3 linked regions of the Homo sapiens genome follow. The protein of the gene in region 2 interacts with the protein of the main gene of each other region in a biochemical or structural test. Each region holds a gene or a part of one and is shown on either strand. Other genes may lie near its edges.

Region 1 (7,998 bases), on a different chromosome or scaffold from region 2:
AGCAGGTTAAGTGTGGAATGAGCACCAGATTGAGGATCCCTCCAGTCTCTGGAGGTTGGACATGTGATCCTAGGCGAGTCACTCAGCTTCTCTGGACCTCAATTTCCCAGGGAACTTGTAAAACAAGGCTACTTCCCTCTGTTCTCCCCCTACCTCAAAGCATTCCTTGAAGTCAGTTACCCGTGCTAAGATAATAAGGCTGATATCCAAAGATGAGGCTATTGGCCAAAGGCTTCAGTCTCTTCTTTCACCAACTTTCTTTTTAGTTATCAGAGCCTCACACAAAAGTTATTAGCTAATCAGCTAATAACTATTCAGCACCTGCTATTTGTGTACCCATGCAGTAGTCAATGGGGGTATTTAGAAGTACAAGGCACCAGCCTTGCCCTTGAGGACCTGTCTCCAAGTCTGGGGACTGCTAAGATATATGAAATAAAAGCACTGAAAGATCTGGTGGGCCTATTATTCAGTGTCCAACTATGAGATACAAACCAGAGGTATTAGAATTCCGAAGAACATCAGCCAGGACTAGAAAAGCTGAGTTTCCAAGATAAAGTAGAATTTTAGAATAACCTTGATAGATAGATAACTTTTGCAAAATTGGAAGGGAAAGACATCCAGCAAAAGAAACTCTGGGAGCTAAGGATATGAGGCTAGATGGAGTAATGTATAGGATGGGTGATCATGAAAGAGATCAACAGAATTCTCAGTAGGTATATGAGTGAGCAGTGGAAATGGGAACAGGAGTTAGAGTTCAGAAGACTTGAACGCGTGGCATGGTAAGCTGGACTTGGAGCAGGAACAAAAGGTATGACCTGGGTGACCTGGTGAACATTGGAAGCTGCTCGGTTTGGATTTCTTGTCTACCATCTGCCTTCAGCAGAGGAAAAGTACAAGAACATGTGCAACCTGGTGTTCTAAAGCCATAGACATCAGCCATCCCAGCTGAGAGGCCCCAGGACAGGGGCAAGGACTCACTATATTTCTGAACACAGAACTGGGAACACAGTGCCCAAAACTGTTTGATCCGCTGCTGGTAGTCTCACACTGACCTCTCAACCCCAGTTACACCACAGGTCAAGCAAATAGGCATGGCCCAGAATCTCTAAACCTTCATCGCATCAACCCCATTCTCTGCCACCTACCAGATCAATGGGACACTGTTTTGGGGACCAAAGACACTGCTCACCTCTGCCCCACACTTAGGAAATAGGCCTTCATATTCTGCTGCTCAGCAGGCCTCACAGAGTTCAACACTAAACTCCTGTTGCAAAGAGCACCCAGAAAGAGAATGCACCAGCAGCACAGTCAGTCCCAGGCTCTTCCTGTGGGAGTCATCAAGAAACACAGTTCCCAGGGCCTCTACAGACAAAAGAATGACACCCAATCATCATGCTAGTTCTAATAGGGTCTAGAGATGTTTAATGGCATCACTGTGCCCCGTGAGACACAGAAGTCACAACAACTCATGAAAAGGAAAGTGTTCATTGAGATACTCTCTAGTGTTGACTTAGTTGAGCCTATTATTGTTAACCAGATGGTTACTGTCTGCATCAAACTGGCAATCTGGAGCAGCAGGCTTCCCCTCAGTGGTGCACTGCCATGGCCGGACCCCTCCCTGCAGTCTTCTCTCCTCAGATAAAATGGCAAGCCTCGTACTCTACCAACTGCAGACCAAAGAATGAAGAGGTTGGCACTCAAGAGATATTTTACTTCATAGACAGAGGAATGTCACCTCTGCACTGCGCTGAGCACCTTCACAATGAAAGATTCAGATCTTCAGATAACAATTTAAAAATTTAGATGTGTGTGCCTGCCAGGATCTAACTGCCTCGCTAGTTAGATCCAGCTCAACAAAAGTACTTAAAATCTTTTCTGCTGGTTCCTATTTCAAAAGAAATCCCTGATGGAGGAAGCACAGACCTTCCAGTATCACTCATAAACTTTTCAATACAAATATGAAACTCAGTTCAGAGCAAGTATCATCTGACTGGGTTTCTCTCCTTCATCCCTGAATGTGTGTGTATACAGGCATACACGGCGTGCACGCGCGCACACACACAGCCATCAGCATGGCATGCTTGCTGAAGATTCAAGCACTCCTGCGTGAAAATGCAAGTACACTATGTCAGGTCAGCCCCACTATGACATCAAAAACCCCCCACCAAAGAAAAAACACCCCGGGAAAGGAGCCAGGAAAGGGAAACGCCTCCTTGAAACAGCCTGAGAAAGGCAATCTGATTCAGCCTGTGCTGAAACTATTCCCGAACACCAGCCAGGAAGTCCCTTCTTTCAGGGTGCTCCGCTGCCTAGCAAACCCAGACCTGCCTTTGCGGAAGCCAGATCTCTGGAGATTCAAGCCCTGGAACGGGTGATTTGGAAAGCGGCTTTCCTGCTCTTGTTCTGGCGCCCTTTAAGATCCATCAGTGGCCAGGTCTTCCAACTCTGCCTAGCCAATGCAAACACAAAAGCTGGTGGCTGCACCGCAAGCACACATACACTTACATACACACACAACACAGCACACACTTATACATACATACCTTTCACCCTCCATTGTGTGAGGCCCAGCCAGGGTGGTAGCTGCTGAACTGTGTATGCACTCGGGGATCCTAGTTCTGTTCTTGATTCTCCCAGCAGACCAGTGGGAAATCTGATCAGCAACAGTGATTCAGCATGGCTGCAAGTGAAGCCTCCTCCCTTCTCAATCCTCCTTCCTCTGACTTACTCGCAGCAGCTTCTACCGCAAAAGCAGCAGCAACAGAAAATGTCTTACCCAGAGCTCCCTGCAGCCCTTTCAGCTGCTAAAAGCAGCAACCCACTTGCTCCCCCTCCCCCGCAGGCTTGCTGCTCCTTGGTCTCCTAGGAACGGCGGCAGCTCCAGCGACCCAGGTGCACTGCCACCTTTCCAGCTTCCTCTGCATCTGCCCAGGCATCCCCAGCCCAGGCGATTAGCCCGCCCCTGGGGCTCCTGCCTCCTCTGTCTAGGCTGCAAAGAATCAGGCAGTTCGTCACTAGCCCGAGAAATACTGGCCCCTACACCCTCCCCTGCTCCCATAGGCTATGAGTCTGTCAGCCTGGCCAGATTGCTGGAATGAGGAGGCCCCTCTGTGGCCTGCAGTGGAGTTTATCATCCACCTGGGGAAATTCACTTGTAGGTCACAGTTTATGTTCCAAATCCTCCTCCCAAATTCTGTAGTAGCTCTGAGTGTCTGATAGATGGGGAGAAGTTAAGGGAAAAGCACCTGACAGAAGTGAGAAAAACACAGAGAGAAATTAAGAGAATACAGAGAGAAATTGGAAAACTAGTCGAAAAAGAGAGGTAGTACAAATAGGTGAAACTGAAACAAACCCTATTTTACTGCAAGAGGCCAAAGACTACTGCAGTAAAGCTATCACAATGAATACTAAAATATCTTAGCACAATCCTAAAATATCTTCCTAAAATCTGTCATATTGGAATTTAACTTAAGCAGTGGCTCCAACTAGTAAGTCTCCCACTGAACCCCCATATCCAGCCAAAGATCTTTCACATCCTGTAATCTCCAGCTGCTGAGCTTCAATTTAGACTAATTTAACTCTCCCTGCCTGAAATGCCTTCTCCAATCCCAGTCCTTTAGTCTTTCTGGGAGTCCAGTCAAATCCCATGTCTTCATAAAACCTTCCCTAATCACACCAATGACAGTCAATCACCACCAAAATACACAAACTATACTTTCCTGTATCGTCATCTCACACCTAATATACAGTCTTGGCTAATTCATTATTTATAAATCTTCTTTCCCAAACTAAAACATAATCTTGTGGAAGGCATGAGGCCAGTCTGTATATCCTAGCCACAGAGGCTTAGAGGTAACTGGGACAATTAGCTGCAAAAAGTGGTGCAGAAGCTATCCTAATGCCTCAGAAAAAAATCAGCTATGAGCATCTCTCTTCTGGGACACCTCATGGCACCCCTGGGCTTTTCCGAATCCACACCAGCACTCACTGGGTGAGTGACTTTCCTGAGTAGTGTTCTCCACACTCTGGACCTCATGCTCAGCTACTCATTCACAATATAGGGTCAGACCAGACAATCTTTAGAGTCCCTTTCAGCTCCAAGATCACAGGATTCTAAAAATGTTTTAAATGGTCCGTTTTTCTTCTCAGAGTAATCCGTGTGATTGTTTAAGAAGAAATACTAGGCTCCAATGTGTTGTAGGGGGCTTCAAGGAGGATAACATGATGTAGGTGAAAGTACGAAGAGACGCTCAGTAAATCTATCATCCTTATCATTTTAACCTGTTAAATTTCTTCACTACTACAAAGCCCTAAAACCACAGAAGGAAGAGAGGAACACTGAGGTGACAGAAAGTAAAAGTAACTAAAACTTTATATAGCCTCCTGAACTCAAACTGGCTACAGGGTTATTCTCAAAGATTACCTCCCCTGGCACCTCAGTGTTCTCTTAGACAAGGCCATTACTCACACTCACTCTTTCTCAAGTGAGAAGAGGCCTGGATAATTTCATTTACACCCCACAGGGCTGTATCTTCACTTCTTCCTTGCACAACAATACCCCTCATATCTTGTTCCCTCTATGTCCCTTCCTCCTCTAATCAGCCTTGTGGCCCTGCTCCAGATATTTCCTCTTGAGGCCAATCACAGGGACCACAAAAAGCTGAACATCACAAATAAGGAAACTGAATCTCGGAATCCGTGCCAGAGTTCAGACATCCACCAGGAACACAACTGGGTGATTCATAAAAGGGACATAAGAAAGAGATGACTCCTCCTTTGCACATACCCACGTTTACATATTCGCCATACAGGAAGGTGTGGAAATGCCACATCTAACAAACCAGACAAAGAAAAAAGATCAGAAAAGGAAATATGTAAGGGTTGTATGTATTCAAGTTTCAAAATATAACTATTAAGAGCCAGTATAAAACCCTGCTAAATTTCCCTGCAAAACCATACGACTACACCTTCATACTTTATTCACCACTCATGATTCACAGGAGGTAGACAGAATAGAGAACACTCAGAAGAGGCCATTTAGAAAAGAAAGGTCATCTTAAGCAAAAAGAACAAAACTGGAGGCACCACATTAACTGACTTCAAACTATACTACAAGGCTACAGTAACCAAAACAGTATGGTATTGGTACAAAAACAGACACATAGACCAATGGAACAGAAAAGAGAACCCAGAAATAAAGCTGTTCACCTACAACCAACTGATTTTCGACAAAGTCAACAAAAATAAGCAATGGGGAAAGGACTTCAATAAATGATGCTGGGATAACTGGCTATCCATATGCAGAAGAAACTGGACCCTATCACCATATATAAAAATTAACTCAGGCACAGTGGCTCATACCTGTAATCCCAACACTTTGGGAGGCCAAGGCGGGCAGATCACCTGAGGTCAAGAGTTTGAGACCAGCCTGGCCAACCTGGTAAAACCCCATCTTTACTAAAAATACTACAATTAGCCAGGTGTGGTGGCATGTGCCTGTAGTCTCAGCTACTTGGGAGCCCGAGGCAGGAGGATCACTTGAACCTGGGAGGCAGAGGTTATAGTGAGCCAAGACTGCACCACTGCACTCCAGCCTGGGTGACAGAGCAAGACTCTGTCTCAAAAAATAAAATAAAATAAACCCAAGATGGAGTAAACAATTAAATGTAAGACCTAAAACTATTTAAAAAAGGAAAAAAACCTAGGAAATACCCTTCTAGCAATGCAGCAAAAGCAAAAATTGACAAGTAAGACCTAATTAAACTAAAGAGCTTCGTATAGCAAAAGAAACTATCAACAGAGTAAACAGACAATGTACGGAATAGGAGAAAATATTCATAAACTGCATCTGACAAAGGTCTAATATGCAGAATCTATAAGGAATTTAATTCAACAAGCAAAAAACATGTAAACCCATTTTTAAAAGTGGGCAATGGACATGAACAGACGTTTCTCAAAAGAAGACATACAAACAGCCAACAAACATGAAAAAATGCTCATCGTCACTACTCACCAGAGAAATGCAAATCAAAACCACAATGAGATACCATCTCACACCAGTCAAAATGACCATTATTAAAAAGTCTAAAAATAACAGATGTTGTCAAGGCTGTGGAGGAAAGGGAATGCTTATACACTGCTGGTGAATGTAAATTAGTTCAGCTACTATGGAAGGCAGTCTGGAGATTTCTCAAAGAACTAAAAATAGAACCACCATTCGACCCAGCAATCCCATTACTAGGTATATGCTCAAAAGAAAATAAACCATTCTGCCAAAAAGGCACATGCACTTGTATGTTCATCGCAGCACTATTCAAAATAGCAAAGACAAAAAATCAAGTTAGGTGCCCATCAATGGTGGACTGAATAAAGAATGTGTGGTATATATATACCAAGGAATACTACACAGTCATAAAAAAAGAATAAAATCATGTCCTCTGTGGCAACATGAAAGCAGCGAGAGGCCATTATCCTATGTGAATTAGTGCAGAAATAGAAAACCAAATGTCACACATTCTCAGTTATAAGTGGGAGCTAAACATTGGGTACATATGGACATGAAGATGGGAACAATAGATACTGGGGACTACTAGAGGATGGAGGGAGGGAAAAGGGGTTATATGATTTGGATGTTGGTAGCCTCCAAATCTCATGCTGGAATGTAATCCTCAGTGTTAGAGTTGGAGATAGGGCCTAGTGGGAGGTGCTTGGGTCATAGGGGCAGATCACTCATAATAGTTTCACACTGTCCCCATAATAAAGAGTTTTCACTCTGAGTTCACTCGAGATCTGGTTGTTTAAAAGTGTGTGGCACCTTCCTCCTCACTCTCTTGCCTCTGCTCTCATCACGTGATATACCAGCTCCCCCTTTGCCTTCCACCACAATTGTAAGCTTCCTGAGGCCTCCCCGGAAGCAGATGCCAGCACGCTTCCTGTACAGCCTGCAGAGCCATGAGGCAATTAAACCTCTTTTCTTTATAAATTACCAAGCCTCAGGTATTTCTTTATAACAACACAATAACCACCTAATACAAGGAGCAAGCCTAAAAAGGTAGTTGAAAAGCTACCTATTGGGTACCATGCTCATTACCTAGGTGACAGGATCATTCATACCCCAAACCTCAGCATCATGCAAGATACCCATGTAACAAACCTGTACATGTACCCCTCGATCTAAAATTAAAGATGAAATTTAGGAAAAAAAAAAAAAAGGAAGAAAGGTTATCTAGCAAAACCAGGGGCAGAGCTGAGTCAAGAAGCAAAGTCTCCAGACTCCTGGCACAAAGTTCCTACCCCCAATATTTTCCAGTTTCAGAAACACATTTTACATTTTCTACCTTATTATCCAAATGTTCTCTGGACCACAGTCTGAACCTGTTTGCTCTATGCTAATTTTCCTGACTGGACTTCAGATTAAGGACAGTTGCTATTGGAGTCCTGCAGTAGAGGAGAGTCAAAATAATCAATGTGGTATCTGTCTGGAGAAAAAGGTCCCATCCTCAGATTGCTCAGCAATAATAGTGTCTTAGTCCAGCAGGCCCCAACCTTTTTGGCACCAGGGACCAGTTTCATGGAAGGCAACTTTTCCAAGGATGGGGGTGGGGGGTCAGGGGGGATGATGGTTTCAGGATGAAACTGTTCCACCTCAGATCATCAGGCATTAGATAGCTTCTCAAGGAGCGCACAACCTAGATCCCTTGCACACACAGTTCACAATAGGGTTCATGCTCCTAGGAGAATCTAATGCCACTGCTGAGCTGACAGGAGACAGAGGTCAGGTGGTCATGCTCGCTTGCCGGCTGCTCACCTCCTGCTGTGCATCCCAATTCTTAACAGGCCATGGACCAGTACCAGTCTGTGACCTAGGGACCACTGTCTTAGCCCAGTCCTTCCCACACCCCAGCCTTCTTCTACAGCTTATCAAAAGTCCCTAGTGGCCCCAGATCTCTACCCCAAAGCAATGTATTCAGCCATCTACACCAACTTTGTTTAGAATCA
Region 2 (7,028 bases):
AAATTAAAACTACTCATTAATTTTATAGTATTTTAGAATTGAAAAGGTGACAGATCTTTAAAAAAAAAAAACCTCGTCAAACGAAAACTGTTCATTTTGGTCAGTCATATTCAAAAAACTTAGTCTGGGCCAGGCACGGTGGCTCACGCCTGTAATCCCAGCACTTTGGGAGGCCAAGGCGGGTGGATCACGGGGTTAGGAGTTCGAGACCAGCCTGACCAACATGGGGAAACCCCGACTCTACTAAAAATACAAAAATTAGCCGGGTATGGTGGCGCGCGCCTGTAATTCCAACTACTCGGGAGGCTGAGGCAGGAGAATATCTTGAACCCAGCAGGTGGAGGTTGCAGTGAGCGGAGATCGCACCATCGCACTGCAGCGTGGTGACAGAGCGAGACTCCGTCTCAAAAACAAACAAAAACAACAACAACAAAAAAACTTATGTCCGATTCCTTTTGGTTTACAGGCAGAAATTTACAGGTAGACACATTTCTTTCTTGTACTATCGATGCTTATTGATACTGATGCTGGAATTTTATTCTTCCATTATAGTTTTATATTTGAATAGGTGCTTTTTAACAATTTTGTTTTCCTTAACCGGTTACCTTACTTTTTTAAGACTGGACCCAATTACTTGTTGAGCACTTTATGAATTAATTTTGTTAGTTTTAATTATTTCACTTCTGAGACTTCTTAGCATGTGATGTGTGTTTTCCTTTTATCACCTGGAATTTTCTGATACTTTATTATCTTGGAACTGATAATACAGTGAAAAAAACTTAATTTGTCTAATGTCACGATAAAAACTTTGTCCAAGCTTCTCAGGTTTTCTTAGAACTCGTAACTTTTTGGATTTTTAATTCTCTATCTAGGCATGGGCATTACCAAACTAAAGAAAATCTTACATCGCATATTATTTTTGAGTCATTTCAGGATTTGGCTGCAGAACTAGATGAATCCTAGCTTATTAAGTGGTACCTGGTTTAGAAACTTCCATGTTATTTGTCTGTGCTTCTGTAATTTTTTGTTTTGATTTTGAAAAGATTATCTTACCTGAAAAATCCTTTATAGCAGTAGTTAGGCAGTATTTTTGGTTTTTTGACCAGGACACTTGCACTACATGCCTAATAAAATATTCAGTGGGTCAGTGTTTGAACTTTTATCTTTGGAGCCAAATTAAAGGACAAGCCAAGGGATTACTAAAGCACTGGAAAGATAGAAACTTTTTCGCTAAATCTATCCTTTTAATATACATATATTTCTGAAGCAAGACAGGAGAATATTGAGTTAAGTTGTTGAGTTAAAAATCTTAGTGTATTGAAACTGGGAGAAATCTTAGGTTATTCTGCCCAGCTATTTATTTGACAAATAAGGAACCTGAAATCATAGAGCAGGTAAATAACTTGATTAGGTAGATGAAGAACAAAAGCTAGTTAGGATCTAATAATTTGGGAGATGACAAAGCATTTGTAGTCCAGTAGATGGCTAATAAGTCATTTCAAATGAAGCAATATTGTGTTGGTGTGGAAGTGGCTGTTGGATTTCTGGAGAAACCCGGTCCTTATACCCATGGCAAATTTCAGGCTTCTGTTTTGGGTGTTGATTTTTATCACTTCAAATTGAGATATAAATAGGCTTTTGTGGATGGGTCAATATGGTATACAAATCAAGCTATTTTCTGTCATGCTAATTTTTTTAGAGTCATGCTATGCATTGCTCTTTAGTAAAACAAGCATCAATTCTTTTTTTTTTTTTTTTTTTTTTTTAAAAAAAAAAAGAGACGGAGTCTTGCTCTATCTCCAGGCTAGAGTGCAGTGGCGCAATCTGAGCTCACTGCAACCTCCGCCTCCTGGGTTCAAGCGATTCTCCTGCCTCAGCCTCCCAAGTAGCTGGGAGTACAGGCGCACCCCACCACACCCAGCTAATTACAAGCATCAATTCTTAGTAAATAATGCCTAGGTAATATTTTGATACCACAGGACCTTCAGTAATTACCGAGATGTTTAAGATGCAGATTTCTTTAACTGGTTTTATTAGACAAGTAGTGCACCTTAATTTTAATATTTGGTTGTCTTGGTCAGAAAATATTACTGTTGGGCTCTATCTGCAGAGTTTACATTGCTTTTCTAGAAAGGGATCTGGTTTTTCAAAAAAGATAGCATAATTTCCTTTAAGAAAACATTGATGGAGCCGGGTGCGGTGGCTCACGCCTGTAATCCCAGCACTTTGGGAGGCCGAGGCGGGTGGATCACGCGGTCAGGAGTTCGAGAACAGCCTGGCCAACATGGCGAAACCCCATCTCTACTAAAAATACAAAAATTAGCTGGGCGTGGTCCGCACGCCTGTAATCCCAGCTACTCGAGAGGCTGAGGCAGGAGAATTGTTTGAACCCGGGAGGCAGAGGTTGCAGTGAGTCGAGATCGCACCACTGCACTCCAGCCTGGGTGACAGGGTGAGACTCTGTCTCTAAAAAAAAAAAAAAAAAAAGAAAGAAAGAAAAAGAAAACATTGATGCACAGATTTAAGAATGATTTATTTTAAGCACCTTCCCAAGTTGCCTCTGAAGAGTTCACATGATGCGTTATATGTTGATGAGATTGTTTCCACATCTACCTGAAAAGAGAGGTTAAATCATATTTTTGTTGAAGCTCCAATATACTTAACTGCTTATTTTTCTCTGTCTTTTATTAAGACTGTGTGTCATGAGTACATGACATTAATATTTTGTGAATAGTATAGCAGTGTTACAGAAATGGGATGTGGTTCTGTGATTAAGAAACCATCATTTATTTCTTTGCTATAGTTCTTTTTTTTTTTTTTTTTTTTTTTTTGAGACGGAGTCTCGCTCTGTCGCCCAGGCCGGACTGCGGACTGCAGTGGCGCAATCTCGGCTCACTGCAAGCTCCACTTCCTGGGTTCACGCCATTCTCCTGCCTCAGCCTCCCGAGTAGCTGGGACTACAGGCGCCCGCCACCGTGCCCGGCTAATTTTTTGTATTTTTAGTAGAGACGGGGTTTCACCTTGTTAGCCAGGATGGTCTGCTATAGTTCTTAAAATATCTAATTGAACTGAATCTCTCTATTTGAATGTTGGTGATTTTTTCCCTCTTATCTTTTAAATTTGTGCCACATTCCTTATTTTTTAGGATGAGAATCAGCGTAACTTTCCGTCTCAGGGAATAGTTTTTGGAGTTTGTTCTTAAATCCTCAAAGTCACCGATTAGGAGTATTGGCAAATTTTTTTCTCTTACCTTTTTTCTGACCCGTAGTAACACAGTCTGAGAAGTAATCTAAAAACCTGGAAAGAGGTTGTTTTTGTGTAAAACAAACCAGGAATCTATTGTTGCTTTGTGACAATTCATTTCTTGACATTCAAATTCTGATGCAAGAGCCTAGTCATTTAAAATTTATCTTATTCCACCAGCAGCTTATCAAAGAATTTCAAAAAATAAAAAATATATGTATATAAATATAAATAAAATTCATCTTAGTTCATCCCTATGGAAACATTCAACTAAAACTGGGCTCTCATTTTCAGAAATCATCCTAAACCTGTTATTTGGGTTTTCTGGTAGTTTTTACATTTTTTTAGATAAAGCTGTAAAAGCAGCAAGAGTAGCTGTACTCAATTATCATTTCTGAAAATATTTAGCATACTATGAAATAATTCATAATTACCGTTAGTACACCTTTGCTATACCAGTTCTTTAAATTATATTGATAATTTAAATTATATATTTAGTAACTTGCATTTTGTTTGAGTTTTTTGTTTTTTTGTTTTTGAGACAGAGTCTCACTCTGTCGCCCAGGCTGGAGTACAGTGGCGCGATCTCGGCTCACTGCAACCTCCACCTCCCGGGTTCCAGCAATGCTCCTGCCTCAGCCCCCTGAGTAGCTGGGATTACAGGCGAGCGCCACCACGCCCGGCTAATTTTTGTATTTTTAGTAGAGATGGGGTTTCACCATGTTGGCCAGGCTGGTCTTGAACACCTGACCTCGTGATCTGCCCGCCTTGGCCTCCCAAAGTCCTGGGATTACAGGCTTGAGCCACCATGCTCAGCCGTTTTGTTTTGTTTTAAAACCTGGTCTGCAGGAATAGGTGAGACTTAGCATGACCTCAGTTTATGTTTGAAGAGGCCATTTTTCTGCCTTGTAACATAGTAGTTAAGAACTAGATTGCCTGGGCTCAAATCAAGGCTCAGCTACATAATTGTGTCACCTTGAGCAAGTTTTGTGCTACAGTTTCCTGTCTGTAAAATGGGTGTAAAAAAGAGTACCCATTTTATAGAGTTGTGCTGATTAAATGAATGAACATATATAAAACATGTAGGATAGGGCCTGCCACATAAATATTAACTGTGATGATGCAGCATCTTTTTTAGGTTGTCCTTTTGAGGGAATCTGTGAAGATTTTGTTTGTTTATATTTATGCTTGAAAAATCATATAGCAAAACTTAACTACTGTTCTTGGAGGAGGAGGAAAGCAGGTATTGATCTTTATGTTACTGGTGCTTTTAAATTCCTTAGCTCTACCTGGCCTTTGCCTAACATTTTAATTTTGTGACCCATCACCCAAATGCCAATCTTTCTGAACTGCTTATTTTCAGAATCTGCTAAGATCCTTGTCTCATCTTTGCATGTATCTAGAAAGCATATTTTCTTTTGGTGGATCTCATATATAATTCTTATAGTATTTATTTATCATATTGAAATTGTTTATATATTTTGTCTAATCCATTAGTCTTTGGAAAGTTCACTATGGTGTAATAGAATACTATACAATGAAAAGGAGCACCAAGGCAGAACCCTTGAGTTCTAGATTACCCAATTTTCTGAGCTTTGAGTAAGGAACTTAATCTATAATGCTCATTTATTAGCAATATGTCTTACTGATTTAGGATTGTTGAAGATCCACTGAAATACTATGTGAATGTACTTTGAAAAATGTTAAGTGTTATATAAAATATAACAGAATACTTAAATATTCATTTAGAAGGCTATAAATTGTCACCTATTACAAATGGAATATATTAAACTTAGTTGGATTTTAGGAGCTTTTTGCTTTGTCAACTTAATTTCTCAAATCTTAACAGGGGAGCTTTTCAGTTTGAAGAAACATTGTCAGAAGCTCTTAATATTTTATTTGGAAGATGATTATGCCTTTGACAGGTAGCAGGCTTAATTTTATATGTAGTTTTTTTTTTATTGTTGTTGTTTTTGATGGGGTCTTGCTCTGTCGCCCAGGCTGGAGTGCAGTGGCGTGATCTTGGGATCTTGGCTCACTGAAACCTCCACCTCCTGTGTTCAAGCGATTCTCCTGCCTCAGCCTCCAGAGTAGCTGGGATTACAGGCACCCACAACCACACCCGGCTAATTTTTTTTTTTTTTTTGTATTTTTAATAGAGACAGAGTTTCACCGTGTTGGACAGGCTGGTCTCAAACTCCTGACCTCAGGTGATCCACCTGCCTTGGCCTCTTAAAGTGCTGGGATTACAGGCATGAGCCGCCGTTCCTGGTCTATATGTAGTTTTTAAAAGATTGGTTATTTGTGATTTTTACATAAGAGGAAAAGCATCAGTAAGCTGTGGTTTTGTGGCCAACTTAATTGATCATATAATATCTCCACCTTCACTTACATTAATTTAGATTTTTCAGGTGGGGTTTCATAAATAATTTACTTTTTAGTGTTGTGACTTGAATCTTGGCTTTGCCAAATTACCATATTAAATACATTATGCTAAATGAATATGTTGGAATGATTTTTTAGAAGAGTCCTCAGATAAGCTGTTAGTCATAACAAGCAAATAATTTTCTCAGGAATGTAAGAATTCTTAAGAATTTTAACAGTTTGAATTTAAGAGTGTTTGGAAATTTGCTTGTTGTAATCATCATACTCAGGTTAGTTAAGAAAAACCACAGTCATTCCTGCAGATACCTTTTGTGCAGCTGAGGTTCAGCTTCTCAGAGACAATATTATTTTTGTCAGTAGATACGTGGTAGATGGTCTAGTTAACCAAACACACACTAATGTATAAACCAAACAGTGAGAGATGAAATTAATTAGTGAATCAAATGATTAATGTGCACATTCTCTGTTACTAGATAGAGATTAACAGATTTCTTGGGATAAGATCATTTTCATGGCTAAGAGTTTTGAGCTACATAACCTGATATATCTATCTTTATGTGGATCATCTCCTTCCATGGACTGGTAGATTATTGTGGATTAAGGTAAATCGGGAAATGCAACAGATTTATCTCTTTAACATGCTAAAGAGTTACTAGATATCATTGTCATATTAAAATGTTCTTTGAACTCTCCATATTGCCCCTCTCACACACAGTCATCCGTCAGTATACACAGGAGATTGGTTCCAGACAGCCCCCACCCCAGGGTACCAAAATTCACAAATGCACAAGTCTCTTAAATAAAATGGTGTATTTTCATATAACCTACAGTAGTACATCCTCCTGTATAGTTTATTTTTTAATTTAATTTTTTTTTTTTTTTGAGGCTGAGTCTTGCTCTGTTGCCCAGGCTGGAGTACAGTGGCACAATCTCAGCTCACTGCTACCTCTGCCTCCTGGGTTCAAGCGATTGTCATGCCTCAGCCTCCCGAGTAGCTGGGATTACAGGCACATGCTACCATGCCCAACTAATTTTTGTATTTTTAGTAGAGATGGGGTTTCATCACGTTGGCCAGGCTGGTCTCGAACTCCTGACCTCAAGTGATCCATCTGCCTCTGCCTCCCAAAACGCTGGGATTACAGGTGTGGCTCCTCACGTATAGTTTAAGTCATCACTAAATTACTTATAATACCTAATACAATGTAAGTGCTATGTAAATAGTTTTTATACTGTAGTGTTTTAAAATTCATGTTGTTTTTTATTATTGTGTTTTGTTATTGTTTTTTCCCCCAATATTTTCATCTGCAGTTAGTTGAATCCATGGATGCAGAACATGTGGATATGGAACCTGAGGATGTGGAGGGCGGACTGTTCTTATGTGTAGAAAGTAGAGAGTAACT
Region 3 (7,028 bases), on a different chromosome or scaffold from region 2:
CAGCCCAGGGCACTGGGGAGGCTAAATGAACACAATCCACCACATTTTAATATTCTCATCACTCAGGGGATATAGAAGCTGGTCTGGAGAAGCTGCCAGTGTATAAAAGGCAAGATGTTTTCACAAGGAAGAAGGGATGAGTACCAGTTTGAAAGTGACAGATCGATTTGACTGAGGTTCTTCCACAATTTTCTGCAAATTAGCTGCCACTGTAATCATACAAACAGAGAAGGTAATGAATGAGAAGTTACATAAATCCACTTTCAACCATATTTTAAAAGCTTAAATGGTAGTTAAGAATATGCTCCGTACAATCAAAATGGAAGCAGACAGATCAAATAATCACTCCCCTAATGAAAGTGTCTTTTAAACTCATTTCTGAGTAGTACACCTTGAACCACTGTCAAATTAACTTTCTTTAAAATGTTGTATTAACCTAGGAAAAACATGCAGGTAAAAGAGGTATGATTTCCTGATTTATGGATCAGAAAGCCCAAGGCCAGAAGTCAACAAACCAGCCTGTGGTCTGTTTTTGTTCTCCGGCAAGCTAAGAGTGGTTTAAAAGTGACAGACACTGTACATGGCCCGCAAGGCCTAAACTATTTATTATCTGGTTTTTCACGGAAAACTGTGTCTAAGGACATGGTCTTTTCCTTCAGTAACATGGACCTGTGGCCTCACTGGGCCTTCTCTCTTCCTTCCTGCTTTTCTAGTACTAAATCTCTAATGACTTTTGCTCAACTTGGGCCACAAAAATTAGGTATCCAAAACAGATCAGATATGGCCAAGCTTACTTTAACTTGTGACTTTTGCCATAATTTCTATTAATCTCCTAAAGACCTTGGGTGTGCTTTCACTTACCATCATTGGAGGTCACAAAGCAAACTCAGAGGTGAAATTTTGTGTGTGTGTAAGGAACTGTCCCATTACCTATAATTTCAGGAAAGCCAAGAACCATTTCAAGAACCATCAGACCTACTCAGTGGAATAAAAAACCTGCTTTTCTATGTACTAAGTATACAGACAGAGACACAGGAGCACATGAGCAGAACGCAATGGAGTTACCTATTACTAAATCCCTTCCGTCGACCAGGCCAGCAGAAATGAGTTCCTGAGAGACACCCTCTGCTGTATCTGCAAGGACAAAGAAGACAGTGCTCTGTTTTTTGTGCGTGCTTGCCACTGTTAACTCTCACAGCTCATGTGGGTGTCAGTGTGCCATGCTAGGCCCAAGCTGGATGCTAAATCCACAGAACCAAGAAGGCAGGCAGGGCCTTCCTTCCATACAAAGACTTTTCCTACCACTGAGATTATCTCAAGTGGAATTCTCACAGATCTAGCTAGAGGGCAGAATCTGTATAAACCAGGTAGCAAATATCTGAGACATGATGTTGAATACTGAACATCTCTAGGGCTAAAAAACCAGAATGATTTATTCTCAAAAACTAAGGCAACAATTTTTGTCTCAAAAAATTTTTGTCTCTTCTCTTTGGGAATCATACTCCAAGTTTTTTGCTAAAATCATTTACTTTTTTATTCTGGTGGGCTTTTCTTCTTATCTAGTTATTCCAGGTGGTACAATCTGAGCAATGGGTATAACCAGAAACTAAAAAGATGAGGACAGAATATCCCCAATTAACCTCATCTTCAACCAACTCAGTGGTATTGGTTGCCAAGGGCTTGAAAATGAGCCCCTCAGAGGGAACAGGAGGACTGCGGTGGAGACAGTGTCCACACATTCACACAGGCAACCAGCAATTTGAATTAATTCCTGAAAATGTGATGTTGCCTGGTGTTTAAAAAGTAAAACAGGTGACACCTCTGTACACCTGCATCTTTTCTCTTTAGTGGTTAGTTGCTCATGATAGTGAGACAGCAAGAAGAATAAGCATGATACACAGAACAGATACTTGCTGGCTACTCCCCAAATTAGAACACTGAGTAATAAAGGCAAGAAACAAAACACACCTTGTTCAAGGTGAAGTTCAACAGCCAGAAACAGTACATGACAGACCTCAGCTTCTGTCTGAGGAGAGAGGAGACTGCAGACCTTGTTTCTTTACCATCATGGAGAACAACCATGTATAAAGAATGAACTTTGGATTCTGACAGATCTGGTTTGAATTCCAGCTATACCTCTTTCCAGCTGTGTGACCTTGAACAAGTTACTTTGCCTTTAAGTCTTGATTTCATCATCGATACTATGGGGATAATAATTTTTCCTTAGTAGACTGCTGTGAGAATTTAATAAGATAACGCTTAAGACAATGCCTGGCCTATAGTAAGCTGTAAAGAGCTATCATATATTTATTACTGTTTGTATTATTATACAAGGTTTTCTAAATGTGTTTAGTAGTCAACGAACTGCATTTTTATCTCACTCATATACTCGCCAAAACCAGGAAAATTTTTATTATCCTTTAAAAGCAAAACTTCACAAAGGACAGAAACTTCACAACACATTTCATTGAATCACAAATTGGAAGCTATTTTGTTTTCAATCCATTTGATGCCTCACCTCTCCCAGGAGTAAATTCAAATCGAATATCATTTAGTTCTTTTTTGGAATTCCTATGAAAGAAAGCAGAATGCATAAAATAAGAATTTCTAAATTTATGCAAAGAGATTCTGCCAACATATATTAAGAAAGCTGTGCCTCAAGAAAGTCTGTTTTGTTCCCATAGATCATATGATGTATTCAGATATGTTCACACTGCAGAGCTCAGAGCAAAACCAATTCGGAATGACCATCTAATTGTCCTACAACCCTTTGAATCTATGTCCCTTACTGATCAATATAAAAATTTCATGCCTTTGAGTAGATTCTTATATGCCCACTCCCATCCTTATTCCCACACCAAGAACATATAAAACTAAGAGGAAAATTGTATGAGCACAGGGAGGTGTGATTAAAATGATACAGGATGCCTTTTTCATCCTTATCCCCACTCCTACATGCCCACAATTCATTGCCTACCTCTGGTGATCAGTCTTGGCAGACTCATAAAATGAAATACATGATACTCCCTCAAATTCCATAGGAATTCAAAGAATATATGAGAGATGGGGATAATAAGGAAAAATTTTAGAGGTAGTTTTTATATAGGACTTAACAGATATGCAGGATTTAGGTAGGCAGAGAGGATAGGGAAAGGAATTGGGTCCATACTGGTAGCAGAGTTACTATATGACTCCAGAAATTCAAACCTGACTGGTGAGGTACAGTTACAGTGATGATCACACCATGCACTGAGATTAAGCAGGATCCCTGGAGGTTTTGTTTAAAGACAGAGAAATGAGAACACTATATCTAAGGGCAGATATGCCTGCTCACTTAGGACTCAAATCTATTTTATATAAATAATGGAGAGGGTTTACTTCTATTTGATGAATAATATACTTGAGGATGTTACTGAAATTGTGCTTAAAATAGAACTACCCATCTCAAATATAACATGCCCCAAATGATTTTCCCTTGCATTGCGTTCTTTCTACACAGGTACATACAAACTTATACTTCTGCATGTATATACTACCTGAAATTTGCTTTTAGCTGTGTAAGTACATAGTTCAAATCAACTTCCAACCTAGACTTGATTATTAAGGGAGTCATTTAATTTTCTCTTTTCTCAGTATCCACCTTTCCACAGTACCGAAGAGTGCTATACATAGTCTGTGCTTAATACATTTCACAATAATTTTCTTAAAGTGTTATTCTTTATGTAGATTTAAAACAGCATGAAGTTGTCAAGACATCCTAGTAACTCAGAATTTTTGAGATGAGACCAGGTATACTAAGTAGGCTTCTGTAAAGGAAAGGTAACCAAATATGTTTTTCACATTTATGGCATAAATGCATTGCTCCTAGTGGCAAGGAGCAATGAGATTCTCCTTACCACATTCTCTTAAATAGCTCTTGCTGCCTCTATCTCCAATTAGGACCTTACAGAAAGATGACTAGGAATTTATATGTGCAAGGGGAATGAGTTAATGGTAATTCAGTGGAACTCTTTTTTAAAATGTTAGTAATAGTTTTAAAAGGCCTGAGTTGCCTCAAGTGATACTTTAATACTAATTTTTTTTCAAATGCATTTATGAGTAGAAAGAGACCTAACTAGAGCAATACAACAGCCATAGTGATTCTGACAAGAAAGCTCTGGAATTTGAATCCAGCTACTAGTGCTAGGGGCGGGGGGGGCGGGGCAGGGAGTTAAAATGAACAGACTGCTACCTATGGCACTTCCTGCTGAGCAATCTGTCAGGACCTCTCTATATGTTCCCACCAAGAACCACCAATTTAGGGTACTTGCTGCAAAACAGAAACAGACTACAAAAACATTTAGAAGTTTCCTTTTAACCTTCTAAAAACAAGGCCTTTATTTGATCTACCACAATCAAAAAGTGCTCCCCTCTTGGGTTAGTTGATCTCAGAGTTTACCTCGTCACAATTATAAGACTGATCTTCAGATAAGCCAGTTAGTGCTGCTCCCCTAAAAACTGTTCCTCAATTACAGGCTACACCTCCTAACCCAAACTAGCTACACTGTAAATACACAAACTCATCACCAATTAGCACAGAAACAACTGAGAGAACATGTGCATCAGTTAGTCACAACACCTGCTAACATGCAGGTCCTCACACTGTTGCTATTATTTCTGGGGAAAAATAATACACCACCAAGCAAACAGAGCTTGATGCTGGAGGACATACAATCCTATCCAGTTACTCTCAGGCACAGACTATTACAGCACATGCAGAATATTCAGAAAACAAAAGAAAACAAAACAAAAAATGTCTACTTACCTTAATCTTAGTACTAGACTGATTGGGATCTTGGTTTCTTGTGAACCTGATCCTGAAGACAAAGCCTAAAAAGCATTGAAAGGTATACAGTCATTGCCTGAAACATTAAGTGGGGAGGTGACTAATGGTCACTGGCAGAGGAATCATTTACTTGGCAGCAATTTTCTTCATCTCCAGCTGAGGTCATACTAATCCCCAGGACATTCCCTGCTGGAGGAGGACATGCACTCCAAGGCAGCAACAAAAGCTGAATGTCAGTTTAAGTCCAACACAATGAGAAAGAAAACTCTCAAGCCCAGATGAAATTTCACATATAGCCACATTTACATTTTATATTTCTGAGACCCCTGTTCCCCTCTACAAGACTGAAAAACACAAAGCTAGGTTTCTCATTTTTAAAAAATCTGCCAGTGCACCATATGGCAGTACAAAAGGTAGACCCTGAACCAGCTGCCCTTCAGAAATCCATCCAACCCATACATAGGTTCCAGTCTTTTTATGGCTAAACTAATCCTCTCTGAAAATTGTACAGCGCTTGCTTATGGGAGGACATGCATTCGATTTAAGTTGTTTATAAAATGAATCTAATTTTTCCATCAATTTTCCTAAGACAACTGTATCTTTTCCCATATGCCAAGCAGAAATGGAAAGCTTGAGGGATGCAAAGTTAAATGAAGTAAGTGCCATGACTAATTGGAAATGCTCAAAGCAGTGATCTCCAAAGGCAGAACACGAGATGATCTACTGGGGTGCAAAAGAAAAAAAAAAAAATCAGACCTTTAATTTATATTTCTTTTCATCTAAAACGTTAGACAAGAAAATGGAACTTCTAATATTTAATAAATGGACGTTGAAAGTCTTACTTTAACCATGTACCATAGGGCCACATGTTGTATGCAGTGTCTGAGGTTTATTGAAGGGAGAGAAGGAGTTACACAGCATGTAGCAGCCCACTACGGGGCCTTCATTCACTTGGCTGCTCTCAATGAAGTATGATTTAATAAAGTTTGTGTGCACCTGGATAAATGATTTACAGATTATAATACCCGGACTTAACAAACCAACCCTCACAAAATTGACAAATAACTTAAAAAGAGTAATAGAGAAAAACCACAGAAAACAAAGAGTATTAATAAAAAGTATAAGCCTGAGTGAACAACAACAACAAAAACAGTACAGCCATCGATTCTCCTAGTCTCTGTTGAACTTCATGAGCTGCATTCTGAAGTTAAATGTAATTATCTAATACAAAGCTGACAAGAAATTAGCCCAAAATTTTTGATGTTTGAAATATTTCCATCATTAACTTATTCTGTTGCTTAAAAACCTGCATGTGATCCTTGTAAAATTCTCTTACCTGTACATGCTTAAAAATGTGAAGACAGAATTTCTAACTTGTTTCAAAATCTACCAAGACATTAACCTGATTACATTAGGTTATATTCCACGTTAATATCTGCTCTTTTCATCTATCCAAAGGAGTGACCATGAAACCATATCCCCGGCTTTACCTGAGCTGTTTTTGCTGGCTCTGCGGTGGGTGGGAGAGAGACTTGAGTTGGCTGTGTAGCAATCTGCCCAGCTGGCTGAGGTAGATGAGCAGAGATCTGTTCTGGAACTTGGAGCAAAGTACCCACAGGATCAGTTGTTGGAAAGAGCTGTAACAAAAACACACACAGTGTTGCTTAAGTTGTGTGGAAAGGGAGGCAGGTCTGCTGACAGCAAGTTCAGCCTTTCAGGGTGATATTTTCAAAGTAGTTTTTGGGTAGTGTACAGGTTTTGTGTCTACTCCGAATATATCTATTCCAAACGGAAGTCAAATATTTCTAGGCTTTTAAACTTTTAACAACTCTGTGAGGTATAATTTATATTTCTCTACATTTACCCACTGTAACTGTACAATTTGGCGATTTTTGTACCATATATAGAATTGTGCAACCATCACCACAATCGTTTTAGAACACTTCCATCACCCCCAAAAAGTCCTCTCATGCCTATAGTTAGTTCCTGCTTCCACACCCAGCCATAGGCAACAACTGATCCTAATTTCTATAAATTTGCTTTTCTGGATATTTCATATAAATGGAATCATATAATATATAGTCTTTTGTGTCTGTCTTCAGTTTGCATTATATTTATCTTTAACAAAATCTATTCCATTCCTTTGCCCAGCAAAACAGCACCTCCAAAATACAGATTTAAGTATGTAATACAAAATTACAGA

The links.
Region 1: of the proteins of WNK1 (region 2) and KLHL3, one has a biochemical effect on the other in vitro, tested with the Homo sapiens proteins (2 studies listed by BioGRID).
Region 3: of the proteins of WNK1 (region 2) and OXSR1, one has a biochemical effect on the other in vitro, tested with the Homo sapiens proteins (2 studies listed by BioGRID and IntAct, with this or other methods).

The regions. Positions count from the first base shown.
Region 1 is NC_000005.10:137,733,090-137,741,087, forward strand, and holds the start of KLHL3 (kelch-like protein 3), read right to left. Parts: upstream 3,001-7,998; 5' UTR 2,558-3,000; coding exon 2,544-2,557; intron 1-2,543. UniProt on the Homo sapiens protein: Substrate-specific adapter of a BCR (BTB-CUL3-RBX1) E3 ubiquitin ligase complex that acts as a regulator of ion transport in the distal nephron.
Region 2 is NC_000012.12:755,568-762,595, forward strand, and holds part of WNK1 (serine/threonine-protein kinase WNK1), read left to right. Parts: intron 1-7,028. UniProt on the Homo sapiens protein: Serine/threonine-protein kinase component of the WNK1-SPAK/OSR1 kinase cascade, which acts as a key regulator of blood pressure and regulatory volume increase by promoting ion influx.
Region 3 is NC_000003.12:38,245,509-38,252,536, reverse strand, and holds part of OXSR1 (serine/threonine-protein kinase OSR1), read right to left. Parts: intron 6,463-7,028; coding exon 6,316-6,462; intron 4,870-6,315; coding exon 4,805-4,869; intron 2,572-4,804; coding exon 2,519-2,571; intron 1,135-2,518; coding exon 1,066-1,134; intron 210-1,065; coding exon 145-209; intron 1-144. UniProt on the Homo sapiens protein: Effector serine/threonine-protein kinase component of the WNK-SPAK/OSR1 kinase cascade, which is involved in various processes, such as ion transport, response to hypertonic stress and blood pressure.